4 linked regions of the Homo sapiens genome follow. The protein of the gene in region 1 interacts with the protein of each later gene in a pairwise test. Each region holds a gene or a part of one and is shown in the gene's direction. Other genes may lie near its edges.

The links.
Region 2: the proteins of TMEM65 (region 1) and SLC10A6 interact in binary tests that used the Homo sapiens proteins (3 or more experiments, as listed by UniProt).
Region 3: the proteins of TMEM65 (region 1) and SCN3B interact in binary tests that used the Homo sapiens proteins (3 or more experiments, as listed by UniProt).
Region 4: the proteins of TMEM65 (region 1) and SLC7A8 interact in binary tests that used the Homo sapiens proteins (3 or more experiments, as listed by UniProt).

What each region holds. Positions count from the first base shown.
Region 1 is NC_000008.11:124,369,610-124,377,859, reverse strand, and holds the start of TMEM65 (transmembrane protein 65), read left to right. Parts: upstream 1-5,158; 5' UTR 5,159-5,702; coding exon 5,703-6,006; intron 6,007-8,250. UniProt on the Homo sapiens protein: Essential for maintaining proper cardiac intercalated disk (ICD) structure and function as well as cardiac conduction velocity in the heart.
Region 2 is NC_000004.12:86,845,710-86,853,524, reverse strand, and holds the start of SLC10A6 (sodium-dependent organic anion transporter), read left to right. Parts: upstream 1-4,140; 5' UTR 4,141-4,409; coding exon 4,410-4,786; intron 4,787-7,815. UniProt on the Homo sapiens protein: Transports sulfoconjugated steroid hormones from the extracellular compartment into the cytosol in a sodium-dependent manner without hydrolysis.
Region 3 is NC_000011.10:123,644,409-123,652,357, reverse strand, and holds part of SCN3B (sodium channel regulatory subunit beta-3 precursor), read left to right. Parts: intron 1-6,607; coding exon 6,608-6,771; intron 6,772-7,949. UniProt on the Homo sapiens protein: Regulatory subunit of multiple voltage-gated sodium (Nav) channels directly mediating the depolarization of excitable membranes.
Region 4 is NC_000014.9:23,159,420-23,167,368, reverse strand, and holds part of SLC7A8 (large neutral amino acids transporter small subunit 2), read left to right. Parts: intron 1-828; coding exon 829-1,033; intron 1,034-1,932; coding exon 1,933-2,084; intron 2,085-7,949. UniProt on the Homo sapiens protein: Associates with SLC3A2 to form a functional heterodimeric complex that translocates small and large neutral amino acids with broad specificity and a stoichiometry of 1:1.

The sequences.
Region 1 (8,250 bases):
TGATTCTGTGAGGTAGATTTTCATAAAAATCAAAACAAAACAAAAACAAACAAACAAAAAAAACAAAGGCTTAGATTGATAAGCAACATGTCCGAATTGATACAGCTGGTAGGTGTTAGAGTTAGGATTCAAGCTCAGGGGATCAATCCTCTTTCTGGTATGCTATATCTATTTGTATTTCAATGTGAATTTTCATATCAGTTTGACAATTTCCACACACACACATACAGACACACAAACCCAGCTGGGATTTTGACTGGGATCAAACACTGAATTTATAGATTAATTTGGTGTGATGATTAATTTTATGTCAACTTGACTGGGCCAAGGGATGCCCAGGTAACTGGTAAAATATTATTTCTGGGTATGTTGGCGAGGGTATTTCTGGAGGAGATCAGCATCTGAACTGGTAGACTGAGTAAAGAAGTTCACATTCACCAATGTGAGTGGGCATCATCTAATACACAGAAGGCTGAAATAGAACAAAAAGGCAGAAGAAGGGTAAAAATACTACCTCTGCCTGAGCTGAGGCATCTGTCTCCTCCAGCTCTCGGACATTGGTGGTCCTGGTTCTCAGGCCTTCAGACTTGGACTGGGACTTACACTTGTGACCCCCTGGTTCTCAGGCTATCAGAATTGGACTAAATTATACCACCAGCTTTCCTGGGCCTTCAGCTTGCAGACAGCAGATAATGAAACTTCTCAGCCTCCATAACCATACCAGCCAATTCCTCATAATTAATTTCATTCTGTATATATTTCTATATCCTATTGGTTGTGTTTCTCTGGAGAACCCTGACAAATGCATTTAGGGAGAATTGACATCTTATACTACTGAGTTTTTCAATCTTGAATTGGTATTTCTCTCCACTTATTTAAGTCTTCTTTAATTGTTCTAATAAGACTTTGTGGTTTCCATTGTGAAGAAACAATTTATTCACCACCACTGTGATGGGGCAGAGGCCTTCCAGGGGTCAGAATACTAAGGCAGGAGCTTGATGGATGAGAAGTGCAATGAGGAAATTGCAAAAATATGGGCAGAAGAAATGATTAAAGGGTCCACTAGGTAAAGCAACAATTTCAAGAATTTTAAAGCAGAATAGCTGGGTGTATAAAGTTTCATCAATGGCAGGCAGCAAACAGCTGTGTGCCCTGCCAGCAACAGGGAAGCCAGGAACTCTGGAGCGTATTTATATGATGCAGCTTACCATGGACTGATGATTCAGCAGCAATTTTTCATGAGGAGGAAACTGTGATTGTTAACCGAGGTATGACAGTTGTCCTCTTTAAAAGCGAAGAACAGGCTGGGCTGAACTCAGGCCAAGTTTGCCTTCTGGGCTTTCCTTCCTTCTATCTTCCATTTCTGTAGCCCCTCCAGCCTGCTAGCATTTCCTCTTCAGCACCATCATATTTCTTCGGAAACTCCCCTTTGCCACCTGCATCTAGACCTGCTCCACAGCCCCATAAACGATCCCCAAATTATCTCCCTCCCTAGATCCTTCATCCATTCATATTTAGGATATTCAGGTGTTCAGAGAAGGAAGTGGTTAGGGGATGCAGTTAATACACATCCATGTATTAAATGACAGATAGCTAGGTGGGCATTTCTCAAATGAGGGTCCAAAGACATAATCGTAGAGATTTGAGAGGTCCGTGGGCATTTAGATAATAATAGCTAGTATTTATTGCATGCTTGTCATGTATCAGGTGCTGTTTGAAATGCTTTACATGTATTATTTGGTTTCACTATAACATTACAAAGCAGATGCCCTTATCTATATTTAACAGGTGAGCAAACTGAACATGTTCTTATTCCCATTAAACAGATGGGCAACCACGGAAAGGTTGATCAGCTCAAGGTTACACAGCTAAGAAATGACAGTATAAGGACTCAAATCCAGGCAGTCTGAGTCTAGAGCTAGTGCTCTCAACCCCAATGCTGTCATCTGGGGCTCAATTGAGCCTGGATGGTCCAAGATGCTGTCATGCATGTTTGGCAGTTAGCTGGGGCTGTTGGCTACGGCCTCCTCCTCCATTTGGTCTTTCCAGCAGGATACATCAGACTTCTTTATGCAGCAGCTGGATTCCAAAAGGTAAATGTCTTCGAGGCAATTTTTCCATGTGGAAAATTACCTTGATGCAATGGCAGCCTCCATGTATACACCTACAGGTCACGAAATAGATAGGCTTATAGGCCAAATTAAGAAGCTTAAATCACATTATCTGGTGGTTCTAAAACGTATCCTCAAAGGTTTTGGCATTACTCCTATTAAGATGTGGGGTTTATATCCCTTTCCCTTGAATAGGGGCTGGCCCTAGGGGTTGGCTTATAGCCAGTAGAATACAGTGGAAGTGATACTGTGTGACTTCCAAGGATAGGTCAGAAAACGCCACAAGCCTGCTTCTTTTTAGACATTCACTCTGGGGAAAGCCAGCTGTCTGGTGAGAAGATCACCATGCTGGAGTGGCTGTGTGAAAGTGCTCTGGTTCTCAGCCCCATTTGAGCTACCAGTCAGCCATGTCAGTGAGCCATCTTAGCTATTCAGCCCAGCTGAACTTTCAAATGACAGCAGTTGTGTTGAAATCTGATTGATACTACATAAACGACTCCAATAAAATAACTGTCCAAGTAAGTTCTTCCCCAATTTCTGAGCCTCAAAATTAAGAGCAAAATAAATTGGCTAATTAAACTACTAAGTTTTGGCATAATGTGTCTACCCAAAGAGCAGCAATAATAACCAGAAGAGTTTACCAACCAACATAAAACAGAGTGAGAAGCAAGGGGAAAGAGATAGGGTAGATTAATAAGCTTAGGATAGGCTGAAGGACCATAGCACCTAAATTCTGTTTTATGCAATGTTCTCATGTCTTATCCCTCTCCACCATCCAGTCTTCTCAGCACATAGTGTGGCTACAAGGACCAGACTGGAGAGTAAGTAAGGTGACTCAACAGACTGAAGGGGCCTGGGCTCAACATATGTCTGTTCTGTTACAGAGCTGAGGGGCAAGTGTGTCTGGTTATAATGGTAGCTGGCATTAGTTGGCTTTGTAGCTGGGGGTTTATCTGCTTTTCTTGGGAAGAGATTACATGAGGCCATAATAGCGTTACAATGGGTGTTACCAGTAGGTATGCAATTTAGGGATGACATGGCTGTAAATCTGAAGATAGTATGATCTGTACCTTATTAATACTTAAAAGTCCACTTTGTCTTTCTGCCTCTATCTAAAGCAGCATTTTCATTTGTTCCATCCTTTTTATCTATGTTCAACCCATATCCATTCATTCTATGTGTAACCTTTCTCATAAGTGACTTGCTTCTACATTTTAGTTTCTCTTGTTTTATAATAGAATTAAATATTCTATAGTAATATAGCAAAAGCATTACAGCAAACCCCAATGAGCAAACATGTATCATATCACGTTTATGATGTCCTCCTATTTATTGACCAAAACAAGTCAAATAGCCAAGCCCACAGTCAATGTAGAGGTGGACCACACAACGGAGCGGATAATAGAAGGTGTAGTTCATTGGGGATCACTACTATAACAATCTAATACTAACACATAGTTAGGAGACGGTTGATCCAGGGATCGAACTTTCCACAGTCTGTCTCTGGAGGCTACACACTAAACTACTATTCTGGAGGTGGTTGGGAATGGGTTCTTACTGAAGAACTTTTTTCAAACCTCACTTCCCAGGTCTGGGGCCTGTGATCCACCCCAGTGAATCAGAATATCTTGGGGGTAGGAAATTGTGGGGGGGATGGGGTGGTACTCCCATGAGCCTGAGACTGAAATAGCTCTGCAGAGGATTCCAGTGCACACTAGGGAATGAAGGGGGTTTCAAAGACAAGGAAGATATACTTTATGCACTCAAAAAGCTTTCATTTCCACAGAGAGCATTCTTAATTGTTGTTATTACATCACAGAGGCATCACCTTGGAATTTAAAAAAGAAGCGATTCCTTTCAATGTTTAAGAGACATCAGTGTTTCTCAAGCTTTCGTGTGTGTTATTACTGGAGGGCTTGTTAAAACCCACATGACTGGGTCCAATGTCTACGTTCTGATTCAGGAGGTGTGAAGTGGGGTCCACTATTTCTCACGTCTAAAAAGCTCTGGGACACACTTTGAGAACCAGAGTTAGAGAAGTAGGAGGCTTTAGTGGTAACAATCCTCCATTATTCAGTTTAATATTCTACTTACATGTAGCACATTTACTACCTACAAGTTTCCGGGCTGAGTGCAGCACTGTTTATGATAAGGATGGGATTTAGATCTTGATTACGCTCCAGCAGATTTATTAAGTGGATTTATTCTCTAAGGGTGCCTAAGCGTCATTAGACAGGTTCAGATAAAGCAGAGATCTCCTCCCTTAGAAGAGATTAGGGACAGCTTAATGAAGTAGGAGACCTTTCACCTGGGCCTTGAAAGATGCCTAGGACCTGGATCAGGGGAAATCGTGGACAATCAAATTATTCTTCCCGCTTTAGCACAGAGACAAAAAAATCACAAGCAACCACTAGGAAAGGTCTATGACATTCTTGCCTCTGCCTCTAGCATTAACAATTTGCATGCCAGCTGCTGGAATCTGAACGGGGAGGACTGTTCTCGTGTCAAGGGCTCAGTCTCAGACCCTCCTTGGGCAGGGGTGGAACTGGCTTCGCTTTCTCTTTGGGGCGCCCAGAGCGACTGCATTAGAGCCGGCCTGCTCGGCCGAAGCGGCGGTGGGCGCTGACTTGGCGAAGGGCGCAGCTGGGGCGCTTCGTTCCGGAGCAGAGCGCCGTGATCCCGTCGGGGCTGGGGTGGCAGCGCAGCTCTCCGCCTGTCCAGAGCGGGGCCGCACGCCGGGGCACCTTTCAGAACAAGCTCCAGATGTGGCCCCAGGTTGGGGGCCGGGTGGCAGCTGTACTACCCTGGCGGGCGAGGGGTCCAGAGCTCGTTTTCCCTATTCCGATCTGTAGGTTTAACGCCAGCACAGGGTGGCGCACCCTACCTCCTTCCACCTTCACGCACCAGCGCGGGAGGGGACGCGTGTGCACGCTCCTCCCCTAGGAGGGAGGGCGGCCCGAGAGCCTGCAGACTGCGCCTGCGCAGCCTCGCTCACACACCTCCCCGCCCCCCCGCACCTCCTTCCCCTTTCGCCCCGCCCCGTTCCCACTTCTGCTGCCGCTAGGGGTAGCGGCGGCGGCGGCGGCTGCGGCTCGGGAGCGCGGCTGCTTTGAGGGCTCGGGAACCTTACAGAGTGGGGACGTGGGGAGGCTAGAGGGTGAGAAAGCTGGCGGGAGAGTAGGGCGGCGCTGGAGGAGGGCGGTGCGTGGCTGACTCATCCTCTGGAAGATCAGACTGACAGAGACACACACTAGCCCGCCCCGCCCGCCCGCGCCGCTCCTCCTCAGCCGGGAGGCGCCCGCCCGCACCGACCGCCCGCCCTCTCCGGGCGCTGTCCGGGCCCGGCCGTCTCAGAGAAAGTTTTTCCCATCGGAGGGGCGGGAGCCGCCGCGGGCCTTTTGGAAAGGAAGTGGGGACGGAACAGGAGGCGAGAGCCGCGCGGGCCCGCGGAGTGCATGGTGCCCGGCGCCTCGGCTGCCTGGCAGGAGGACCTCGGGGCGGGGTCGAGCTGAGCCCAGCTCCTTCTCGCCTCAGCCGCGCCAGAAACCGCCTTGCCGGACGGCCGCGGGGGTCCCAGCTCCTCAGCTCGCCATGTCCCGGCTGCTGCCGCTGCTGAGGAGCCGGACCGCGCGCAGCCTGAGGCCGGGCCCGGCCGCCGCCGCCGCGCCCCGCCCGCCGTCCTGGTGCTGCTGCGGGCGGGGGCTGCTGGCGCTCGCGCCCCCCGGCGGCTTGCCGGGCGGCCCCAGGCGGCTGGGCACGCACCCCAAGAAGGAGCCCATGGAGGCGCTGAACACGGCGCAGGGCGCGCGCGACTTCATCTACAGCCTGCACTCCACGGAGAGGAGCTGCCTGCTCAAAGAGCTGCACCGCTTCGAGTCTATTGCCATTGCCCAAGGTAAGGGGGGCAGGTGGGGGGCGAGCCCGGGGGCCCCGACGCCCTCCTCTTCTCGCCAGCCCACCGGGAGCCCGCTGCGGCCCTGGATCTTGGACCCCCGCCGCCGCCCCCCTTCCGCCCCCCTCGCCTGTCTGGCCCCACGCCTGGGACGGCTGGGGGCGGGGAGACTTTCCGCCGCCCGAGTTTCCCCCAGGCAGGTAGGACGGGCGCGGGTCGTGCCAGGCAGCCGAGGCCAGCGCTAGCTACTTCCTCCCCAGCCTCCGAATCCGGAGCTTCGGCCTAAAATGCCAGTTAACGCTGTTGGGATTGAGTTTTGATTTGCCCCGTGCCTCCCCTCCCCAGCCCTCCTGTCCCTTAGCCCTTGCTGCTTTCTTGCGAGCGTGCACCCGTGCAGGTGGCATGCTGTGCCTGCTCCGAGAAAGTGCTGCAAACCCGCCTGGCAGGAAGAAACTTTTTGAACGGTTATCAAATGAAGACGTATGGGTGGGTAGCCAAAAGAAGGGGTGTAGCTTCGAAAGTCAGGGATGCTCATAGCTGCTTGTTTCCACACATGTCTGATTGCGTTAATTTCAGCAGCCAAAGGAAACATTTTCTCCAGAAATGGAAAGACAGATTCAAGTTAAACTCCAGTTTTGGTTTTTCCCAGAGGTTGAAAGAATGAAATAAATAAGGAGGTATATTTTTTGGAAATCTGTGGCTCTGTAGTAAAAGTCAGACTGATGCTCAAAAGTAATTGGGAATGATGAAAGCAAAACGATTTTTAAACTAGCATGTTAAAATAGGATATTTCTAAAAGGAGTCCAGAATGGGGTAGGGCAGAATTTGAGTCTAGGTGAAAAAGCTAAAAGTTCAGAAAATAAAAAGGATGAAAGGAGCAAACGACTAAAATGGATGTCTTAAAATATTTCTGCCACTTAAATACAGTTATGTAAACAAAACACATTGCTTCAGTTTGTATTACATTCTGATGTGTTTGAAAGTTTTAAAAAAGTTTACTCTCCTCTCTAAACTTGGTAGGTACATAAACATCTCATAGATTCCAAAGTGTAGAGCACATTGATTCGGATCATGCCATTTGATTTGCCAGACTTGAAAGTATATCTTTAGCTGATGTGCAGGAATGGAGGAAAGAATTATCTACCTCATGTAAGCAGGACGTTATCTGTACTACTTCAGAAACTTGTTTTAGTTGTGGCTTTTAATCAGATGTTTTCCCCCTCAGTTCAGGAAATTGTGGACCAATTTATAGTGGATGATTGATTCCAGACATTGTTTACCCACAGTGCTTTTACAGGAAAATGTAACGTCCGATCAATTCCGTTATTCAATGTGTAATCATGATGTTATATGCAATCATAATGAAACACTAGCACATTTGTAATCTATGTGTGCACTCAGTATGCAGTTTAAAAATAGTCAATTCTGAAAATATGCTCCTTGGAAAAATAATATAGTCAGTCATGTACTAGAACATTAACTTTTGAATCTTTCTGCACTGACAAGACTATTTGAACACACATTTTACCTTTTCCAAGTAATTTCTTGGAAATTCTGCATTGTCAACAAGTTACAAGATTGGAGGGCCCTATGAATATAGTTTTGTGGCAGTTCTTGAAAAACATGTCCTGCAAGGTGACTGAATAATTTTTTTCTCATACATTATTATTTTTTACATGCCAGCAGTATTGCAGTAGCAATGCTACATTTCCTAATAAAGATAATATTTTTAAATTTAACGTGGTTTTAAATATTCTGAAAAGGACCTAAGCACTTTAGTCAATGGAGATCATTAGCATCAATTAAACTTAGTTATGTTACTAATATGAGAGAGAAATTAGTAATTTAAATTGTCTTCTTTGCTCAGGAGAAACAGTCAAGGATATTTGAAACAATGGTTAGTCAGATGCTTATCTCTCCTCTTTATATGCTAAAGAACATCAAAGTTTAAATCAGCTATTTTTGCTGATGTCGATGACAAAATGATTGTCCTATGAATCAAATGACACAGATGCTGCTGCTTTGTTAGTGTATGTAGTCTTGGTGTTCACTTACTGTTTTCAGTATCAATACATATAGTTATGGAGATAACTAGAATCATCACTTAGGAAATTACCTTATTCATTAATCATTAAGGTAAAAGGGATTTTATTATGTTGGGAATGCGTACAGCTCATTCCATTGCTGAAATCAACAATTTTTTTCCAGCCAGATAAATGAAAAACTCCCATGTTTTCTTTTATTGTT
Region 2 (7,815 bases), on another chromosome or scaffold:
TGGAGGCTGGGAAGCCCAAAATCATGGGCTTCCCAAAGGGTCACATCTGGCCAGGGCCTTCTTGCTGCATCGTAACATGTCAGAAGGCATCACATGGCATTCCCACTATAACGAACCCATTCTTCCCCACTATAACAGCATTCATCTATCCAGAGCCCTCATGACCTAATTACCTCTTAAAGGGCCCACTTCTCAACATTGTTAAAATGACAATTAAATGTCAACATGAGTTTTGGAAGGGACACTACAACCATGGAAGATGTTGATCACTTTTTTTCAAGTATTTTGTCTTTTTTTCTGGGAAGTGATAGTGTTTTTATTGTTGAGTTAAAAAAATACTGAATTTGGCTTTTTACCTTGTGTCATGTCTGAGTAAACAGTCTACTTTTTCCATTACTGCCAATTTCCTTTATATCTGTTTTGGATTTATCTCTCATGAATTTACGTAAACTCTTTTTGAACCTATAGGATTTTTCTGTCTTTCAAGCTTCTAGAAGTTTTACCCTGTGCTGCCTTTCAGAGCGTGGGAAACAGTTCCACAGCCAAGTCTGGTTACCTTTTCTTTTGGCACTTTCCCCTCAGACTTTACATTCCCAGCCTTTTCTGTTGGTTTTCCTGAGGAGTATCTTTCACCCCAAATTCTACTTACAGAGGCTGGAAGTACATGAAATACTTCCTGTGATTTGTAGAACTGGATCTCAAAATGAAGGTGCATACATATTGAACATATGTAGATGCCTTTTGAGTGTGTGAGAATAGAAGATAATGTTAGAGATTAGGGATTAGTTTATTTCTCCATCCTTAAGCCAAATAGTGGTGTTTTACCCCTGAGCTATGCCTAAGTGGTTGCCAGTCTTTTCCGCATGGTCTTGCTCTTGACTGCTTTTCATTGCTTCCACTTCAGTGTGCTCCAGGGAAGGAAACGAGGACAGGTGGAGAATTAGATTGAGATTTAAATCCCAATGTTATAATTTACCTGCTTAATAATCTTCGACAAATAATATGGCCCCAATGGGCCTTTGTTACTTCCTAGAATAAATGTGAGGATTAAGTGGGATCTCATAATCTGCCTCACTGGCTTGGGATGTAAAGTTGGTCATGCTTTTTAAAATTTTCTAATTAATCATTTGAATCTCTACTTACCAATAAGGGCAGGAAGTCTGCGATCCTGTATTTGAAATCTTCTTTACAAATTGACCGAGAACCCTAAGTGCTTACTCTTCCCAGGAAAATCTCCTTCCCATCTCCACTGGGGAGAAACTTGGAAAAGCCTGACCAGCCCGCTGGTAGGCCCTGGGATCACTGCGGTTGTTTCTGTTGGGACCTTTTGATGCATTGGCCCCACCCAGTCCAGTGGGCCTTTATCCATTGCCACCCTGTCCCTTCCGGTCCAGTCCTGGCACACAACATGGCGGTGTCCAAGCCTGGGCTCTCAAGATGACTTCTCTTCAGGTCATATCCATATACTTAGTCATTGTGTCCTGTGGCATCTGTCCAGGGTGACTGGACACAGAGGAACCTGTCATCAGGCAAGAAACCCCTGTCTTTCCTGGTGTGTGTTAGGACCAGCTGACCTCAGTCGGAAACATCCTAATTCTTTTGAGAAATTCTGATAACACTACTTTTTTTTTTTTTTTTTTTTTTTGAGACGGAGTCTCGCTCTGTCGTGCAGGCTGCCAGGCTGAAGTTTGGTGGCATAATCTCCGCTCACTGCAAGCTCCACCTCCCTGGTTCATGCCATTCTGCCACCTCAGCCTCCTGAGTAGCTGGAATTACAGGTGCCCGCCACCACACCTGGCTAATTTTTTTGTATTTTTAGTAGAGAATGGGTTTCACCGTGTTAGCCAGGATGGTCTCGATCTCCTGACCTCGTGATCCACCTGCCTCAGCCTCCCAAAGTGCTGGGATTACAGGCATGAGACACTGCGCCCGGCCAACACTACATTTTAAAAGAGAAGTGGCCAAGGTCACCTTTCTCCCTCTCCCAGGAGGCTCCTTAAGGCTGCTATGCATATTTAGCCCCCTCCCCTCTATCAGCACTGAGTACCCAGCAATCACAAAAGTTCCCGTCACACCATTCTCATCAGAAATGGGGGTGCTTATACCATCCTTATCAGGAATGGAGGTGCTTATACAAAACTTAAATTTGTATAACTAAAAAGGGCGATTCAAGTGACTCTTCCTGGGAACAAAGAAGGTTGACACTTTGGGAGGCTGAGGCGGGCAGATCACGAGGTCAGGAGATCGAGACCATCCTGGCTAACACTGAAACCCCGTCTCTACTAAAAATACAAAAAATTAGCCAGGCATGGTGGTGGTCGCCTGTAGTCCCAGCTACTCAGAAGGCTGAGGCAGGAGAATGGCATGAACCCGGGAGGCAGAGCTTGCAGTCAGCCGAGATCGCGCCACTCCACTGCACTCCAGCCTGGGCGACAGTAGGAGACTCCATCTCAAAAAAAAAAAAAAAAAAAAAAAGAAGGTTGACTAAGGGGCTTTTGGACATTATCTAGGCAGACACCCCTGACCCCTTCTCTTGCTAAATAAGTAAATAAAGTTCTGCTTCACCAGACATAGCCACATATGTGTAAAGCACCTAGCCACCTGTATTGGTCTGTTTTTACGCTGCTAATAAAGACATACCCAAGACTGGGTAATTTATAAAGGAAAAAGGTTTAATTGACTCACAGTTCCACATGGCTGGGGAGGCCTCACAATCATGGCAGAGGGGGAAGGGGAAGCAAGACACGTTTTACATGGTGGCAGAAAAGGCAAGAGCGTGTGTAGGGGAACTCCCCTTTATCAAACCATCAGAACTTGAGAGACTTATTCACTATCATGAGAACAGCACGGGAGAAACCCGCCCCCATGATTCAATGACCTTCCACCAGGTTCTTCCCATGACACATGGGAATTATAAGAGCTATAATTCAAGATGAGATTTGGGTGCGGGGGAAACACAGCCAAACCATATCACCACCTCTGTCACCCCTGAGAAGTGCTCAGAAAATGTTAGCTGTCTCCCTCCTCCCTTCCTCCTCAGCCTGACCACACCTCTGCATCATTCAAGCTGGGAACACCTTGCCTTCCAGAGACCTTTCCCGTTCCTCAGTGTCCATTCTCTGCAGGGCTCTGCGTAAATACGCCCTGTGCTGACTGACCCCTTATACGCAACCTCCAGGGAGGCTGGATGGCCAGAGCTGCCTTCAGGGTTTGTTTGCCAAAGGCAGTTTATTCTTTCTTCAAATAGTTAGAATTTACTTCACATTTGAATCTAACTTGTATTTTTATACAGTCAGCATGTCCTGAGCATTCTGTCATGGAGAAGAATTTGCTCATCCATGAATAAACAATGCATAGCTAGTATCCCTCTTGAGACAGGTAGAGGCGTTTATGAAGTGTGCCTTGTTACTAGCCTGTGCCCCACAAATAAACTTTCTGCTGTGAGAAGGGGTGTGGCACCTGCTTTTTCAGAGGTTTAGTTTCACAGAACCATACAGTCCTTGGGTTTTGCCAGCAGTGCCTGCTTAGAATGCACAGAGGGGCCCTGGGCACTGTGGTCAGAGGCTGTCCTCAGACCCCATCTCCATTTCAGACCAAGCTCTTTACCACATCCCCTTGCAGGATTCCCAGATGTCCCTAGGAGGCCAGGGGTATGTATCTCAAAGTAGACTCTTATCTCCAAAAGCAAGTGAGAGCTCCCTTGAATTATTTTGGGTGAAGGAATTAGTTTTCACATGTTTCATGAGACATAATTAGGTGCCTAATACCATATTATTCTCACAGGTGTTTAATTATTGACTTTAGACACAAATTCTAATAGAACTAGAAGAAAAACTGAGACAAATTCTGAAGCTCCTTGAAATTATTCTTAGTCCCTCCTGACATTTCCTCCACCGGCGTTTTTTTTCTTTTTGCTCTATTTCCAGCAGACACGCTTTGCTAATGCTACAAGGTGTGGCTTTGGCTTTGTTGTTTTTTCCGGAGTTAGCTTTTCTGTCTGTGCATCCTGGCTCTTTGAAATCCCAACTGAATTTGGAGAAATTATTTCTTGGCATCCACCCTACTTTCCAGGGACACAATGTGATGCTGACGACATAGCCCGGTCACTCCACTTGACAACAAGTTTGTTTGTCTCATCTCACATACATATTCAGTGGTGAGTAAGAACAGAAGTGGAAAGCCTTACTTACCACAGTTTATTATATGTTTCATGCCTGTGATAATTACTTTTATAATGCCACTTGTGAAAAAATTGATCAGATTAGGATGAATCACCTTGCTGGCCAACAGTTATTGGAATGATTCTCCATGTGTGACTTCGTTGCACTATTACAAAATGTGGCAGGATAGACCTGCCCAGCCATTGTTGCCGATGTTCATTTGTAATGCTGCCTTAAGGAGATGAGGAGATGAGAGCCAATTGTTCCAGCAGCTCAGCCTGCCCTGCCAACAGTTCAGAGGAGGAGCTGCCAGTGGGACTGGAGGTGCATGGAAACCTGGAGCTCGTTTTCACAGTGGTGTCCACTGTGATGATGGGGCTGCTCATGTTCTCTTTGGGATGTTCCGTGGAGATCCGGAAGCTGTGGTCGCACATCAGGAGACCCTGGGGCATTGCTGTGGGACTGCTCTGCCAGTTTGGGCTCATGCCTTTTACAGCTTATCTCCTGGCCATTAGCTTTTCTCTGAAGCCAGTCCAAGCTATTGCTGTTCTCATCATGGGCTGCTGCCCGGGGGGCACCATCTCTAACATTTTCACCTTCTGGGTTGATGGAGATATGGATCTCAGGTAAGTAACCCCAGGGAAGCTCAGCAGTCTGTCTCTTATCCTGCCTAGGGGGAATAACTGAAACTCTTGTGTTAAACACTCTTCTAATCTTTTGGTAGAGATTCTAGTGGGAAATGTTACAAATATCACAGAGACTTGTTCAGCCATGGGTGGGCTTTCCTTTCAGTGCTCAAAAGTTACTTTGCTGATGATCATTTTCTTTATTGGCTACTGTTCTGAGCAGTGGGATGCGTTCTGAGCAGTGGAGGCAGGTCTGCACCTCACCCAGTGGCCCTTCCTAAGCTTGAGCTCATTCTTACCTACACTGGCCTCTTTAGCAACTCCTAGGACTTAAACCAAGAATCCCAAGAAGCTAACGATTGTGGTTTGGTAGCAGCCGTCGTGGTTGTGTCAGTGGCATAGTCAGAATGAGACTCCCGTAGCTCCAGTCAGTGATGCCTGAGCACCTACTTTAGGAAAGAAGCACTTTAGAGGACTGGATAAAGGAGCTTTAGGGGTGTCTGGTGGCCATATCCAGCTTTAAGTGCTGAGATGGCTTGTCGATTTGACTTCAGGAGCAATGCGAAGGCTCTCAGGACTAAAATTGTTCTTTCTTGTTGCTTTGCAGATCGTTAACATCATCACTAGATTCGCATTCCTTCCCTTTAAGCCAGTGACCTTATTCCCAATTATGGTGTAGATAAATACCTCTGGGAGACATTAAGCCTTGTCCCTTATTTACACTTTAATGAGGATGAATTAGTCACATGCTTTTCTGGATTACATGTTTTGATGGGGGAAAAAAAGAGCATTTGAGGAAAGAGTAGAGGGATAGCACTGGAAAAAGAGCTAAAAACAATGGTCTCTCGAGACTCTTTGCTTACTTGTGAACATGCCGTTTCACTTCCTGCCCTGGGGAAGAACTGCTTATAAATTTAAGTATTTGTTTCATGTGTATGTCATTTAGTTGAGATTCACTTTACCATGAATGAATGAATCAGAGGTAATGACTGAGCTGGGAGTTGACATCAGTGAGAGTCAGCTGCAGGTATGTGTTTCCAGTTTTCCGCTTGTGCTGAATGTTTAGCGTATGGAACATATTTCACCTATAAATTTTAATGGGCTCATACCATGCAGAATAGGAACTAACTTTCCCAAGGCAGTGTTTTTGTTTACCCACTTATGAGAGATTTGAAAAAAAAATAACTTGATGAATTTTGTGTTTTACCTTAATGGTAAAAGCCACTCATATACAAAGCCACTAATATACACTGCTTTTGTGTTTTACCTTAATGGTAAAAGCCATTAATATACATTGCTAATTCAAATTCAGTAAAGTTGATTATTTAACTGGGAAATGATAGATATTCTTTGCATGAAGTTCATAAATCAGAGATAAATTCCAGGACCTAAAAGTTTTTGGAAAGAAAAAGGAAACTAATATTTATTAAGTGCCCCATAGGCATGGGATAGATGCTTTCATGCTTATTTTCTTCTTGGGGCTCATAATAACCTTGTAAATGGCCTTTTATTGTTCTGAATTTTACAGCTGAGAAAATTGTGATTCAGATTGGTTAAGTAGCTTGCCAAATGCTACAAACCAGTATGGCAGAACTCAGATTTGAATTCTCATCTGTTTTACATCAGTCTGCAGTTTAGGCACATTTCCCCCATGGCATTTAGCAACACAACTAGATCTTCTGTTTTGAATAGCAGCATAAATCTTCAGTGTTCTCAAACACTTGTGTTCTGGGAAAGAGAACATTTATTACCTTAATCTCTTATTAGTCAATGTTGTCATAAAAACACCAATGAACAGGAAACCTATGAAAGATAAAGCTACTTTTACTTTCTTTTGCCAACTCTTATCTTTAATTCACCTTTAACTTTGTTCAAATTATTTAACCTATCTAAGCCTTATCTCATCATTGGCAAAATGGGGTTAAATTTACCTATTTCTCACAAGACTGTATATATATGTATATATATGTACACACACTCAAACACACACACACATATATAGATAATAGTTTGGGGTGGAGTTTCACTCTTGTCGCCCAGGCTGGAGTGCAATGGTGCGATCTCGGCTCGCTGCAACCTCCACCTCCTGGGTTCAAGTGATTCTCCTGCCTCAGCCTCCTGAGTAGCTGGGAATACAGGTACCCGTACCCACCACCGTGCCTGGCTAATTTTTGTATTTTTAGTAGAGATGGGGTTTCGCCATGTTGGCCAGGCTGTTCTCAAACTCCTGCCGTCAGGTGATCCTCTTGTCTCGGCCTCCCAAAGTGCTGGGATTACAGGCGTGAGCCACGGCGCCTGGCTGACACAAGACTATATTTATGGAGGAAATATATATTTGTGTGTGTGTGTGTATTCAGAGTGCCAGGTACATAGTAGTTGTGCAATAAATATTAGCTACTTTTCCTCTTTTCTTTCTAAATTTTGATTTTGAGTCTTACCAACAAAACTAAAAAAACAAGCAAAAACTAAATATTAGATTTTTAGAAGCTTATAGGTACAAAAGTAATAAAATCAATTTTCAGTAGAAACTCAAATAGGTGAAAATCAAGTACGGTGTGAAACAATATCTAAGTAATTACATTTCTTCATAATTGAATACCAACAAAAAATCAGTTTTAAGCAAAACTCAGTGGATCGTCATTGATAGGAGTTTTATCTGCTGTTAATGCTGGATAAAATCCAAGAGCGGTTAGCACAACATCTTCATTTGACACACGAGGAAGTGGAGATTTAGCTCCCTGCAGATGACCTTGAGCACGTTTCTCATGCCTTCACTCCTGCTTCATGCAGTGCACTTGCAGTTCTCCATGTGTTCACCCCACACAGGCATTTCAGAATCCATTGGTTGGAACCGGTTTGTGCGTTCTGCAAATGAGATGACTGATGACACCCATCCTCTTGCAGTTGCCTGGGCTTGTCATCTTAGCCTTGCCCTGTGACTACCCTCATTCTCGCCATGGCCACTCAATCCACTGCCAAGCCCTGTAGCCCTTCCTCTTGCTGTGTTGCTCACAGTTCTTGCTTCCTGT
Region 3 (7,949 bases), on another chromosome or scaffold:
CCAAAGGCGGACTCATCACCAGCCATCCCCAGTAGAGTAGACCAGACCTGGAGATGGAGCAGCTATAATATGTTGCCAATGATCTCACCTGCCTTGAAGATTAAGGCTGAAATTTTCTCAGGGGAGGCTAAGGCTGAGGACACGAGGCTTAGAAGATGTTAGCCTGGCCAGATAAAAAGAGCGTCGGTAAAGCTGAAGTTGTGGATAAGGGTTGGAGTGAGACTCTGCAGAGACTTTCTTCCTGAACTCTAATCTAAGATTTTGAGATCCCTGCCTGAATTCCAGTGGAGGGAGAGAACATGCTATCATCCAAGAATCTTTTAACTAGAACTTGTGCAACCTGCATTGGAGTCTCAGCTTTGCCACTAGCTTACTATATAACAACCTTAAAGTGCTATCTGGTTCCTTCTGTGTAATGTTTGGAAGTTGGCACGGGTGATATCTAACATCCTTTTCAGCTCCACAGATGAATGGTAGAGAAATCTTTGAAGAATATTGCTAGAATTGACAGAGTGCCCATCCCCTCCCCGACCCCAAAAAACTTTGGAAGAAGTGTACACAGTATGCCCATCTTTGCCCATTCTCAGTTTCTTTGCAAACTGAGTGTTGTCTCACCAAACTGAAAAGCTGTGGAAGGGAAAGAGAAGTGGTTCAGGACACTTGGTTGTTAACTGTAAGAAAAACAGCTTCCCTTCGCCAGGCGCAGTGGCTCACGCCTGTAATCCCAACAATTTGGGAGGCCGAGGCGGGTGGATCACCTGAGGTCAGGAGTTCAAGACCAGCCTGGCCAACACGGCGAAACCCCATCTCTGCTAAAAATACAAAAATTAGTCGGGCATAGTGGTGCGTGCCTATAATCCCAGCTACTAGGGGGACTGAGGCAGGAGGATTGCTTGAACCTGGGAGGTGGAGGTTGCAGTGAGCCAAGATTGTGCCACTGCACTCCAGCGTGGGCAACAGGGCGAGACTCCATCAAAAAAAAAAGAAAGAAAAACAGCCGCCCTTCACAGATACAATTTCATTTGATTTGCATGCAATTCCAATATTGAACAATAATGCTGGGTTAGATGTGTTCCCCCTTCCAAAGTTGATTTTTTAATATGATGTACAATATGAAGGGAAAGAGTCTTTCCATTTACTTTCTGCATGCATGAAAAAAAGTTTCCTTATTTCCTTTGTTAAAGCATGTAATAATTTTTATTTTTTAAAGAGATTTAAAAAATAATACAATACAATAAATAATTAATACAATAAATAATTAATACAATAAAATAATAATAATTGTATTAAAAAAATTAATACAGACGATGTCTCGCCATATTGCCCAGGCTGGTCTCTAACTCCTGGGCTCAAGTAATCCTCCTGCTTCAGCCTCCCATAATGCTAGGATTATAGGCATGAGTCACCATGCCCAGCCTTTAAAATAAATAAATAAATAAAACCCTATATTTGCCTGTGCATCACAGTTTACAATGTAATTTTCAATACATTGCTTGTTTTGGTCCTCATGTCTATCCCTGAGGTAGTCAGGGGAAAGAGTGCTATTTCCAGTTTAGAGATGAGAAAATGAGCTCGGGGAAGGGAAAGGACTTGCTAGAGAACCCTTGTTTTCTGATTTCAGTCTTCCAGTGCTCCTTCTAGCACCTCTCATGGACACATGTGCTACTATGCACAATCGCCAGGAGGGCACCTGTCCTCCCATTTCTCTTCTGAGCTACCGTCCCATCTCTCCCCAACACCATCACCTGTCCTAGGGCCTCACTCACTAGCACCTAGTACCTTCTCTGCCCTTCTTCTCCAGGCCTGCCCTTCTAGTTGCCCTGTGTGTTTTCCTCTCTTCCCCTGGTGATCTTTCGTGCATCCTATTCAAGGCCCTAAGTGACCAGCTAAATTGACAGAACAAGTCACGTCAGGGTGTCAGCATCTAAAAATAACCTCATTTATTACCCCTTTTTGGAAATTGTTTATATTCTAATCAAATTTTTCATTATCTCAGTGCAAAGGAAAGCATTCTAGAGCAATCTCAGGAGGAAAAATTGGGCATTGTCCAAAGAAGAGAAAGATTTGAGGGTATCAGAGAAGCTGGTTCATAATTCTTTATTATCTGCCTCATGATAGATGGATGCTACTACTCCCTAGTGAAATATGATCATTATTAATAATCATGTTTTTCCTTCTCATAAATTTCTTCATTATTATTATGGGAATTGAAGAGAAGAACAAAGGTCAAATGATTTGGTCAACATTATTCCAAGAGTTTGTTACTTTTAGTCAGCAATGTAGTTTGAGCTCCTGCCATATTTACAGCCTTCTTTGAATACCTAGAGGGTTTCATAGAAAGAAGGGCAGTGGTGGACTGGGTGCTGTGGCTCATGTCTGTAATCCCGGCACTTTGGGAGGTCAAGGTGGGTAGATCACCTGAGGTCAGAAGTTTGAGACTAGCCTGGCCAACATAGTGAAACCCTGTCTTTACTAAAAATACAAAAATTAGCTGGGCGTGATGGCAGGTGCCTGTAATCCCAGCTACTCAGGGGGCTGAGGCAGGAGAATCGCTTGAACCCAGGAGGCGGAGGTTGCAGTAAGCTGAGATCATGCCATTGTACTCCAGCCTGGGTGACAAGAGTGAAACTCCATCTAAAAAAAAAAGAAAGAGAGAGAGACAGAGACAGAGAGAGAGAGAGGAAAAAAAGAAAGAAAGAAAGAGAAAGAAAGAAAAAAAAGAAAGAAAGAAAAAAGAAAGAAAAGAAAAAGAAAGGAGAAAGAAAGAAAGACAGTGGTGTGCTGAAGACTCAAAGGATGGAGAAACAGACATTACCTCTTGAAGCAAGGAGCAGCAAGTCATACTGCAAAAGGCAAGCAAACAGAGGTGGGGGAACTTTGTGGCCATTTTTCAATGTACTCTTCAGGATCATACGAGCAGAGTTCTCATGCCCTGAAACTAGATTTTGACCAGAAGGGAAGGAGTGGGACTTGCTCTATGATGATACCTTGGATTATTGTTGCCTTAGGGGCAACCAAGAAAAGAGAGGGGCTACCCCACTTTCTGCCATACCCCATTTGCCATCCTGACTGCTTTCCCTCCATTAACTATAAATGAACTAACTATGCTTCTATCTCTGCCATCCCATCTACTTGTTCACTAGAGCACATCACCTCTCACCTTTTCAAAGATGTTAATCCAGCAAATCATTTTCTTGCATTTCATTTCTTTCAAACTCCACCAGCTCTACTGTCATCTTCACCAAAACAAAATCGTCTTCCAATCCGATCCCTGTACCAGACCTCTTAACTGTTTTGATTCCACCCTTGTCCCTTTCACTTCATCAGTTTATTCCCAACACAGCATCAGATCATATGATCTTGTACAAATTAGATCCCATCATTCTTCCTCTCAGAACCTTCTGCTGCTCCATGCAAATGCCATAAACTCTAAGCAAATGCCAAGGTTCTAACATGGCCAATAAGACCTGCTGTGATCTGGCCCTCCCCATCCCTCCTACTACTTCATCCCCTTCTATTCTCACGTTGTTTGCTGTAATTTCCACATTGGACTGTTTGCTGTCTGTTGAGCATGACAAACACACTCCTTTGGGCCCCTTGAGCCCTTGAGTTGCAATTTCCTGTGTTTGACATGCCTTCACACAGATATGTGTATAGCTTGTATCCTCATTTCTTTTCTTCAGCGCCTGCTCAATGATACCTTCTCAGAAAGGCCATCCTCCAATGACCCTGTGCACACACTCTCTCCTGTTTTATTTTTTCTCACAGCACTTTTTACTATTTAATGTTGCTGTTTTCCCTCTCCCTCCATTGGAATGTAAGCTCCATAAAACAGGGATTCTTTTCTTTTGTTCTCTGGTGTATTCTTCGTGCTTAGAATAATGCCTGGCACCCAGAAGGCACTCAGTATATTTGGGAAATAAACGAAAGATAGAATAACATGAATAATGACATTTGTACAAAGCACATTCATGTAAATTAATCCATAAAATTCTCATGATAAACCTACTAGACAGATGTAACTTTCAGCATGATGTCGATGAATAAACTGAGTCCAGAGAGATTACATAGTACATCAAACCCAACTCTTCAGTTGCCAGATTCTATCTTCACCCTGCCTCTATAATTGTAACTGTGCATTCCTTGAGACTTCTTAGTCCACTTCTGAGTTTGTCAACATGAAATGAATGAATTTATCTTTGCCAGCTCTCATTAAATATGAATGTGCCTTGAGGTTCCATACTACACGGAGTTCTTGCTGCATACGCTCTACCCCTCTGCCCACTCACAAACTTTTGCGCAAACCACATTTCCTTTTTGTTTAATCAGATCTATAATCAATACTTCAGACTCATCATATGCTGAAGATGTTTCTGATCAGTTCTCCCTAGATGTGAGTCCTCTCTCCATTAACGTGGCTCACCATCTGCAGAAGCAATAGGTCCTCTTGAAGACTGTCAGATAAGACTCACCCAGCTTGCTGGAGAGTTGAAAACCCAATTACATTTATTTTACCTTGATGTTTACAACTTTAAGTTAATTCTAGTGCCACTAGTTTTTAAACTCCATGTTTTAAAATAAATACATTGCCTTCTAAGTCAATCAAACACAGTTTTTGGACTCAAAATTAATTTATGGCAGTGTCTTATTAAGCTCTAAATAAAACCTTCCTCTGCTTTTAGGAAAGAACGCTCTGCCAGGAGATGAACAGGCTGACCATTAACAGTGGACTAGTTTTTAAATGTAGTGTGTATTATTTCTTTTTTTTTCTGGGGGTTCTGTTTTTATTATTAATTCATGAAAAAGTAGCATCAGAAGGGATCTTCAAAGTCCTAATATAAGAATCTGCGGTGACCATCATGTTGTTTTTATTTTTTCAAGAGATAGGGTCTTACTCTGTCAACCAGTCTGGAGTGCAGTGGTGCCATCATAGCTCATTGCAGCCTCAAACTCCTGGGCTCAAGCAATCCTCTTACCTCCTGAGTGGTTGGGACTACAGTTGTGTGTTACCATGTTTGGCTAATTTTTATTTTATTTTATTTTTGTAGACTCAGGGGTCTCACTATGTTGCCCAGGCTTGTCTCAGACCCCTAACATCAAGCAATCCTCTCAACTTAGCCTCCCAAAGTGCTGGGATTGCAGGTGTGAGCCACAGCACCTGGCCTCGTCTTACTTTCAAATATCCCAAACAATGCTGTGTACACTCTCTTAGCATTTAGTTATTTGCATTTGTGAACAGCTCCAAAATCATAAAATTCTTTCTTTATTGCATTAAACTTATTTTTTTCTTATAACTTTTAGGGTTGGGCAGAATCAAATTTCTCTTCCATCTGCCAGCCTTCAAATATTTGAAGACAGATATGTTCTGTGTCCAAGCTAAGCAACTCGAATTCTCCCATTTTTTCCTCACCAGACTTTATCTCCAGATCCTTCACCATCTCCCTCACCTCTGGGCATGCACTCTTTGAACAACTTCCTTTTTTAAAATGTGACATCCTGAACTGATCATAATAGTCCAGATTTGTTCCAAAAACAGTGCCGAGAAACTACGCCTCCTTCCTCCTGCGTACTGTACATCTGTTAATGCAGCTCACATTTGCGCATGTTTTGCTGGCAGCCTTGTCCCGCTCAAGTTATTCTGAATTATCAAGCTGATATACTTGCCTCCTTTTAAAAAACAGACTTCAAGTTTCTAGAGGGCAGAAACACTAAGTCTTAGACCTCTGTGTGGCATGCAAGGTGTCCCACAATCTGACCCCGCTCCAGATTTTAACTTGCCTTGCTATACTCCTCTGCATAGACCATTGTTCCAGCTTAGTGGTCCGCTCGCCATTTTCTTCACTGCTGCTCCAACCTCCACCATGTGTCAGAATTACCTACAGTTTTCACACAACACAGATACAATTACATCTCTCCACGACTTTAAAACATTGGATACCTCACACTGGAAGGGACACACAGAGGTCTTCACAGCATGGGCCCTGCCTACCTTTCTAGCCTCATGTTTCACCATCCTTCTCTTCCTTTCTCCCCAGGCCAACTGGGAGTAACTAACTGCCTGTCTTCTAAGAACAGAATATATCATGAGTGTGTTACTTGCTGTGGTCTGGTTTAATCCTAGTTAGGAATATGTGTTCCCTATTGGATTATAAATGCATTTAGGGCATGGTTAGTGTTTTATTCATCTTTGCATCTCTAGTCTAGCATCAGACCTGGCAGAGAGTGGATTTTAATGAGTGGTGGTGGAATGAAGGGGGATGGATGGTTGCTGGGTAGGTAGATGCCCTGTCTCCCATTTGGGCTATAAGACTTAGAGAGCAGGGCTCAAGTATAATGTACGGTGCTGCATCTCCACTGCTTCCAGGGGAAGGATTTCAGTCAATGTCTAGATCATCCAGGTCTCCTCCAATGTGTACACGTTCTGAGCCTGTACATTCAGGGAGCGCAGGTGAAGGTGTAGACATGTGCACGTGGCTTTTTTCAGGTTGGCCTCATGACTCTTCCTTCTCTGTCTCTCTTCCCTCCCTCCTTCTTCTCCAATGTTTCTCTCCTGTGCCCCTCCCCCACCACCTGCTGTTCCTTCCCTGTCCATCTGTCCTCTCTGCAGTCAGTGTCTGCTTCCCTGTGTGTGTGGAAGTGCCCTCGGAGACGGAGGCCGTGCAGGGCAACCCCATGAAGCTGCGCTGCATCTCCTGCATGAAGAGAGAGGAGGTGGAGGCCACCACGGTGGTGGAATGGTTCTACAGGCCCGAGGGCGGTAAAGATTTCCTTGTATGTTAGACTGCTGACTCTGGCCTTTCTTCTGCTGGCCTCTGCTGTTCCCAGCCTGGCTCCTGACAGTCCGGGGGATGCCAAGCTAGCAAACACTGGCTCCTTCTCTTCCAAACACTGACAGATCCTCAGCAGATAACTGACAGCCTTAGTGAAGCCCCAGCTTCTGTGAGAGAAAGGGCACTGGGCCAGCTGCAAGCACCCTTGATTATGGGCTGGAGGAAGCAGAGGAAAGAGATATGCTATATTTAAAGCCTACTATGTGATAGGCGCCCTACCACACATTTTGCAGGTGTTTTCATCTAATCTTCTGTGCCATCCTATTATATGCATTAAATTCATAAAGAAATTGGAATAACACAAAGCATCATTATGTGAAATAACAAAGGTTAGCTCCTTTAACTCCTGCAGTCCCATTGAAATAGGAATGACAGGGATGACAAAGAGTGATCCAAGGGTGACATTCACCCGGGACACCCAGCACAGCCACATCAGTGAGTCAATTATGTCAAACAGTTCTCTCGTGGATACTTGCTGTGCCGAGTCTCCTAAGTGGCTGAACCCCCAGACTTATCCATGATTTGGAAACGAAGAGATTCGCTCCTGGCAGAGCTGGGAGTCTTCCAGATTCTGCTCCTGCACCATAGCCAGTGTCAGTTCTGGGTGGTTGGTGCCAGTGGCAAAGTGGTTGTATATGTGTGTGTATATATATATATGTATGTGTGTGTGTATATATGTGTGTGTGTATATATATATATATATATATATATATATATATATATATATTCTCTCTCTCTCTCTCTCTCTCTCTCTCTCTCTCAACGGGGTCTCCCTCTGTCACCCAGCTGGAGTGCAGTGGTGTGATCTCGCTTACTGTAACCTCCACCTCCCAGATTCAAGCGATTCTCCCACCTCAGCCTCCCCAGTAGCTGGGACTATAGGCACCACCACCATGCCCAGCTAATTTTGGTATTTTTAGTAGAGACAGAGTTTTGCCATGTTGGCCAGGCTGGTCTCAAACTCCTGACCTCAGGTGATCCACCCACCTCGGCCTCCCAAAGTGCTGGGATTCCAGGTGTGAGCCACCGTGCCTGGTCGGCTGTCATATATTTTGAATACCACCTTGGAGATGACCATTATTTACTCCTTCACTGACTGTGGAGCCAGGCCACCTGGGT
Region 4 (7,949 bases), on another chromosome or scaffold:
TAATCTCTTAGTTTGTAAAATAGAGAGGGAAGTACCTGCCCCTCTCCTCTCCCTGAATTCCATAAGGTTGTTTTGAGGGTCACATGAAACATTGGTGGGTAATGACCTTTGAAAGAATGCAGTACTGAGGCTTTGTATGTATTGCATTCCTACACACCACTTCTAAACCACTAGGACTGTTTTTATAGAGTTATTTTATGTTCTTCACCAAGGGTGGGGCCGTCATGTCTAGGGTAGAAGCCAGCCTCCAGGAGTGTTTTCCACACTTGTAAGTCTTGAAAACCCCCAGTCTTGGGGTATGACCGCAATCTGTCCAAAAAATATTGCCCTTTGGCTCATTTTTGAAGCCTTCCAGTGGCAGGTGGTCTCTGAAAACAGCCCACTTTTCCAGCCCTGCCATTTTCAGAGAGTCTTGAAGGCCTTGTCACTTTGGGTGGACCACGTGTCGCTCAGCTGGAGGGTCCTGAGATTCAATACTTCACCATCACTTACTGCGATGTGGACCTAGGCAACTCACTTGGTATCTCTGAGACTCAGTTTCCTCCTCTGTAAAATGTGAGAAATATCTGATTCCATAGTGTCATCCTGAGGATTAAATGAGATGTGGAAAGTACCTGACCAAGTTCCTGGTCAATAAGTGTCAGTTCTCTGCTCCTCTTTCCCCTACTTCAGGGAGAATTATTGCTAGGCACACCTGCCTGCAGATCATTTACATATATCCAAGGCATTTCAGAATCAGATCAGAAATGAGACCACCCTCCAAATGCCAATCCTGCCAACCGTCCTGTCTCTACTGTCTCCCCTCCTTACCCTTGGTGCCTCATGCAGGGAACATCATCGGCTCTGGAATCTTTGTCTCGCCAAAGGGAGTGCTGGAGAATGCTGGTTCTGTGGGCCTTGCTCTCATCGTCTGGATTGTGACGGGCTTCATCACAGTTGTGGGAGCCCTCTGCTATGCTGAACTCGGGGTCACCATCCCCAAATCTGGAGGTGACTACTCCTATGTCAAGGACATCTTCGGAGGACTGGCTGGGTAAGAGGATCTGTGGAGACCTGAATGGTCTAGGGGAAAAGGAGGAAGACATTCAGAAGGAGGTCAGATTGGAAAAAGCCAAGGCCAGGGGTTTCCAGTCTCCAGTGTGCCACGGGGTGCTAGTGAATGGAATGTCTCTTCTGCTTTCCTGCCATGGTTGCTAGTGTAGCCTTGTATCCCCTTGAGGCTCCCGATAATGATGGAGGACCAGGTTTGTAGTTTTGACCTCTATGTTGATCTTAGTGGGAAGGAGTCTATGAGTGAGAGCAAACAGAACTGTGTAACAACACTGACCATAGATTCCCAGAGAAAGCACATCACAAAAACAACGCCCTTCTATCTTGACAAATGAGAGTGGCCAGCTAAGGTAGAGTGCACCCTCTTCTCACACTACCAAGGATAATGGCCTCCCTCTAGAGCTGGGCCCTAATCTTAAATTTCCTCAATTTCTGCATCCCTGCCATTGGTAAACCCTCACCAATGGGCCAAAAGGTGTGGAAGGCGCTTCCCCTGCAAACCCCCACTTGATACCTCTCCTGATTATTGCTTACGTAACCACACCCTTAGTATGTCCTGTCTATCAACATTCTGGGGTTGCAAATTTTGTTTTTCCACCATTGGATGCTGGTGGCCACAGTGATGGAGAAGAGATCATGAAAGGAGAGGAGAGAAAGGAAGAACGCCAAGACTTGTGTTAGTGCTTGTGGAAATTTAACTCTTCATTAAACCATTTTATTGTCACTGCAGAGGGCTGGGTGTCTCATTTGTGGGTGGGGGCAGAGGCTGGGCTCTTCAGCATCCTTGAAAATAAAAAAGAGATGCATGACTTGCCCGGGCTCTCCCCTGATGGCTCTGCGTCCCTGCCATGCCTTTCGGCGGATGTCCCTTTCCTCCTTCAGGTTCCTGAGGCTGTGGATTGCTGTGCTGGTGATCTACCCCACCAACCAGGCTGTCATCGCCCTCACCTTCTCCAACTACGTGCTGCAGCCGCTCTTCCCCACCTGCTTCCCCCCAGAGTCTGGCCTTCGGCTCCTGGCTGCCATCTGCTTATGTAAGTGTCATCTGGGTCTTGGTAGCAAGACAGCCTCTTTTATTATATTTATTATTATTATTTTTAGAAACAGAGTCTTCACTCTGTCACTCAGGCTGGAGCGCAGCCGCATGATCATAGCTCACTGCAGCCTTGAACTCCTGGGCTCAAGTGATCCTCCTGCCTCGGCCTCCCAAAGTGTTGTGGTTACAGGTGTGAGCCACTGCACCCAGTCTGAGGGACAGCCTCTTTTATCCTCCCTGGAGGTCTACATGTCTCTGACTCTCCTAACTTCTCTCCATTTTTTTTTTTTTGAGGCAGGGTCTCACTCTGTCACCCAGGCTGGAGTGCAGTGGCGTGATCTCCACTCACTGCAACCTCCATCTCCCAGATTCAAGTGATTCTCCCACCTCAGACTCCCGAGTTGCTGGGATTGCAGGCGTGAGCCACCATGCCCGGCTAATTTTTGTATTTTTTGTAGAGATGGGGTTTCACCCTGTTGGCCAGGCTGGTTTTGAACTCCTGACCTCAAGTGATCCGCCCGCCTTGGCCTCCCAAAGTGCTGGGATTACAGGCCTGACCCACCTCACCCTGCCTCCTTTTCTTTTCCCCATTACTTTTCTTTCAATTTCCTACAAGTGTGTTTTTTATGAATGGATTCTGCATACAATTGTCTGGTGTTAAAAAAAAAAAAAGAAAGAAACTTAAGTAGCTCCTTGGAGGCACTATGATTTTCACTGGCAGGGTTCTTGACATTACGCAAAGCACTTTCACCTATATTATCTGATTTGGGCCTAATGACAAGTCCATGAGGTAAGCTGGGCCAGTGTTAACATTTTCCCAGAACAGATAAGGAAACAGAGAGCCAGGCAAATGACTTGCCCAGGGAGGCAGGCCACGTGGAGTGCAAGGGCTCCTGATTTCTTGTCTGTCCAGTGCACTGCACTGTGCTGGCTACTCCCAGCTGCTCCTAGGAAGATTACTCTGGCTTCTTGGCAGTAGGTCCACATCTACTTCTACCTCAACTTGTCAAGTCACACTCTTTTAACTCTCTTGGAGAAGGGTTTGTCCATGATCCCTGCCCTTGATGAGTTTTCTAACTAGGAGAAAAGCCATATAGACAGATACTGTGGTTAGGATTCAATTGCAGTAAAAATTCAGAGAAGGGAGCTAGGCATGGTGGTGTACACCTGTAGTTCCAGCTACCTGGGAGGCTGAGGTAGGAGGGTCGATTGACCCTGGGAGTTCTGGGCCACAGTGAGCTATGATTACACCTATGAATAGCCACTGCACTCCAGCCTGGGCAACATAGTGAGATCCTGTCTCTAAAAAAAAAAAAGAAATTAAAAACAACAATAACAATAAAATTCAGAGAAGGGGAAAAGATCTCTGTGGGCTGGAATAGGTTAGAGAGGCTTCCTAGAGAAGTTCTGCAGAGCCGTATTTCTAGGAAGTCTCAAAGCTTTATCTCTGATATTAGTCATCTCAATGGATTGGGGTATTTTACATCTTTAATCAAAAACTAATTTCTAAAGTAAATACTTAGATATGTTTCAGGGGCTCCACCTCTAGGGTTCACTGGGTCCCTGCCTTCCCATAGCTTCTAACACACATACACTTAGCTGAGGGCAGTGATCATCCTGGCCATATGCTTTCCCAGGTCCTGACACTTTTCCTTCTGTCCTGTTACGGGATGGGGGAGGAAGAGATCACTCACCCACCTCAGTAGCCTCTTACAGGGCAGGCAGCTGGGACCCAAGAGGCGGTCTCCTTGGCAAGTGAGCCCTCTTTGGCAGTGCTGGTCAACCCTGGGACAGACCTCCACCACCCAGGCCATTTGCAATATGGGGCCAAGACATTTGTTTGGGGGTGTATTCCTTGTGTTTGATCAGGCCTGCTCACAGATCTGGAGGCAGAGGAATGCAGGCTCCAAAACCAGGCTGCCTGCGCCTGCATCTCCAGTCCACCATTTCTAACTGCAGTGGTGAGTGCTGGGCAAAATCACTCGTCCACCCTACTGTGAGATGGGGAGTGTAATCCTAGCTGCCTCAAGAGGTCGTGGTCACAAGGACTGCAAGAGAGAAGGAAGGGGACACCCTCAGCACAGTGTTAGACACCCAGCACCCCAGTCATATCAGTCACTGGGGGTGGGCAAGATGCTGGGGCCACTTTATCCTTGCATCCTAGCTGGATCCAGAGTTGAGATGGGGAGCGGGGAAGAGCGAGGGCGTGGGAATGCAGGAAGAGTGCTGTTTCTGCCATCAGATCAGCTAATGGGAGGGTGGGAGGCAAGGCCACAGAAGTGCTAGCTACTGCTGTTTTGGTGTTTCTTTGCACACAGACAGCTTCCTTTTTCCTGCTGATGCTGCTAAAGTGTCTCAGACAAGAGGCCACCCTTACCCTTCTACTAGAAATCAAGAACCCCCGAGGCTGTTCAGTTTGCACCCTAGGAGAGGAGCCAGGCCACAGGTTGAAGAAGTTCCCAGGCAGCCAGACCCCATGGCTTTCTTTGCATTCCCCAAATCTGCCAAGGGTTTGACCTCTTGCACAAAGACCCTCCAAAGTAGTGTAGCCTTTTTGGCGTCCCCTCGGACCAGAAAGGTCCAAACTCTCCTAGGAGATAAGAACGCCACCTGCCTGTAGCCCTGCTCCAGAATGACATGTTGCACAGTCCTCTCCACAGCCTTCCCCTCACCTAGACACTGCAAGGACCAAGCCAAGGAGAAATTTAGAAACTGGCTGATGACAAAAATGACAAGACCCCCCTCCTCTATTCCTGTAGTCAAAGATTCAATAAAGCTTATCTAAGTTTGGCCTCTGCCTTCTCAGCAGAACTGCAAGGAAATTATCTCCAACTTAACAGTAGCCAATCTTGTCCTCTAAAGACAGGAATTTTCAATGTCCTTGAAATATGGGTTCAAATATTTGTCTACCTTCATAAGCAGAAAAATCTTAAATCCTTCTTATTCCCAAGCGTAGTCTTCCTTATTTCCTTTAGGGGAAATGGAAACCAGCTCCACACCTGTCCCGCTGCAGTGTCCCTTTCCTCCTAGCTGTGAAGGCCATGTGGAGCTGCCATCCCTCTGCCCGGCAGGGTGCACACGTACATGCATTAGCTATAACAAACTTCCTCTCTCCCTTTCCTTATACCTGACACTCCCAGCTGCTTTGAGTCTGTGTACAGAGGTTCTGTTTTCCGGTTTGTTGAATACTTTTTTTTTTTAATCCACTTCTATAGGCCCCTCAAATCCTCTCTTCTTTTTTTGAATTTTATGGCAGGCCATACCAGATAAGCATCCAATCCTCTCATACGGTATTCAGTAAAACAAGAACCAAGCTGTCAGGAAGGCTTGGTAGATGCTTTTTTTTTTTTTTTTTTTAGATGGAGTCTCACTCTGTCACCCAGGCTGGAGTGTAGTGGCGCCATCTTGGCTCACTGCAACCTCCGCCTCCCGGGTTCAAGCGATTCTCCTGCCTCAGCCTTCCAGGTTGCTGGGATTACAGGCATAAGCCACCATGCCCAGCTAATTTTGTATTTTTAGTAGAGATGGGGTTTCCCCAAGTTGGTCAGACTGGTCTCAAACTCCTGACCTCAAGTGATCCACCCGCCTCAGCCTCCCAAAGTGAGGCCACTGCGCCCGACTGGTAGACGCTATCTTTCATTAAATGCTGGTACTTTTTATTCCAGCACCCCTCCCACCCACCCACCTACCCCCACCATCATCCAGCCCTCCTCATCCTCTTAGCAGGGGCCAGGCAAGCCAGCTACATAAAATAAGCCCAGCCTGTGTCTCTTTTGAGAGACGCAGTAGAGAGTTCCGGTGTGGCGTAAACATATGCACATGGGGAACTCTGCTTCCTGCTGTCCTGTGGCGACATGCTGATGACTGTGAAGCGAGAGGTTTTGAGGAAAGGCCACCCTCTGTGGAGAGGTCATTGGTGTATAATGGAGGGCACTGGAGGACAGGGCACAGGGCCCAGCAGGGAGAGCCTGTGTGGTAAAGCCCGTGGCGAGGGTTTGCTGGGGGAGGGAGGAGATGAGGCCAAGTCTGGTTCCATGGTGGGGCTGTTTTGGAGGAGAACTGATGAGAAATGAAGTTGGGAGGAGCCAGGTGGTGGGGGTGGAGAGGTGGAAAGAACCTGCTGAAACTGGCTTGCCTGCCGGATCCTGAGCGGGTCGGGGAGAGGAGAGGGAGAGGGAAGGAACTGCAGACTTGGATCACACTTATGCAACTGCAGCTGCCACTTCGAGTTATTCTATTATTTAGGTCAAAGCTGATTACTCACTGCTGAGTCAGCAGAATATCCCTAGCCACCCAGCAGTAAAAAAAGAAAAGAAAAAAAAGAGAGAGAGAGAGAGAAAGTATTTTACATTTTAATTAAATAAAAAGCCTTTCTCTCTTCTCCAGAACAAGTATATTAGTGGGAGTGGAGGGAGTTAGGAGGGGACTGGGAAGTGTTAGAACTTGGTTTTGATACCTTTTGTGATCTGCTTGTGTGTTTTTCTCCTTTTGTATTATTTCATGAGTAAATGACTATATTCCCCATATAAAAGATCCAAGTAAGATATAGAGCCAGCAGCGATAGCCGCCCTTATCATCAGCCGCTGGCCAGTAGCTGCAGTCCTAGTGGATAGTTCTAAATAAAGTGCATCTATTACTGTACAACTCTGGCTGCATGGACCTATGTACTGACAGGTTATTCCTACAGCGTGCCCTTTTTTTTTTTTTTTTTTAAGACGGAGTCTCCCTCCGTCACCCAGGCTGGAGTGCAGTGGCGCGATCTCGGCTCACTGCAAGCTCTGCCTCCCGGGTTCACGCCATTCTCCTGCCTCAGCCTCCCGAGTAGCTGGGACTATAGGCGCCCGCCACCACGTCCGGCTAATTTTTTGTGTTTTTAGTACAGACAGCGTTTCACCTTGTTAGCCAGAATGGTCTCGATCTCCTGACCTCGTGATCCACCCGCCTTGGCCTCCCAAAGTGCTGGGATTACAGCTGTGAGCCACCCCCACCCGGCCTACAGCTTGCCGTTTTATCCTGTAGCCACATCTTTTGGCTGTTACCTGGGTCTCTAGTTGTAAACAAAGCATCCACAATGATCCAGAGGAAGCACTGGGTCCAGGGGACACCCTTTCCCAGGCTTCCATCTGTGCATCTGTGCAACTCTGCATTTTCCTTTGGGATCCGTTTGCTCCCCATTCTCTTGGAGACTGGATCACCTTTCATTCAGTCCCCTCCTGGCCTCCTTCCTCTCATTTGGGGTTGGAGTCATGTCCAGCACCTGAAGTGGAATCAATTCTTTTTATTCAAGTTCCCCACTTCTCCCTGAATGTCTTGACCTAAAGAAGTTCCTTCTCCTTCCTCACCCTCAGGAGAAAGAAATATCCTGTATGCATCTCTCAAGGAAAAAATGCTTCTAATCTTGTTTTCTATCTTTCTACTGAGATTCCTAAGAGGCTAGCTTTTTCCAGGGCTTCAGATAGCTCTTCTTCCTTGAGCTATTTGGAAAGGAAAGGACTTCATGTGTTGCTTCAAACTCCTGAGTTGCTTTGCAATTCCTCTGCAGAAAGCCTCCAACTGCCTGGTGCAGAATGCTGTCACAGAGAAACTCGTGAGTTGTTTTGCAAGTCTCTTGCAAATTTAATCAATCCCTTGACCTCAGAGCATTCAATAGTCTTTCCTATCATCTAAATCCCTTAACCTCAGTTTATTTTCCCTTGAGCCTTCACATTCTCTACCCCCAAACTGCTCCTCCCCAGACACTAAACATTTTCCTTCAGATACCTGGGCAGCACTGCCTTCTTGCCCTTCCCTAGTCCCCAGAGAGTTCTTCGGGTATCCGATCAGCCTCGTTTATATGAATTCAGACAAATACAGACTGGCCTAC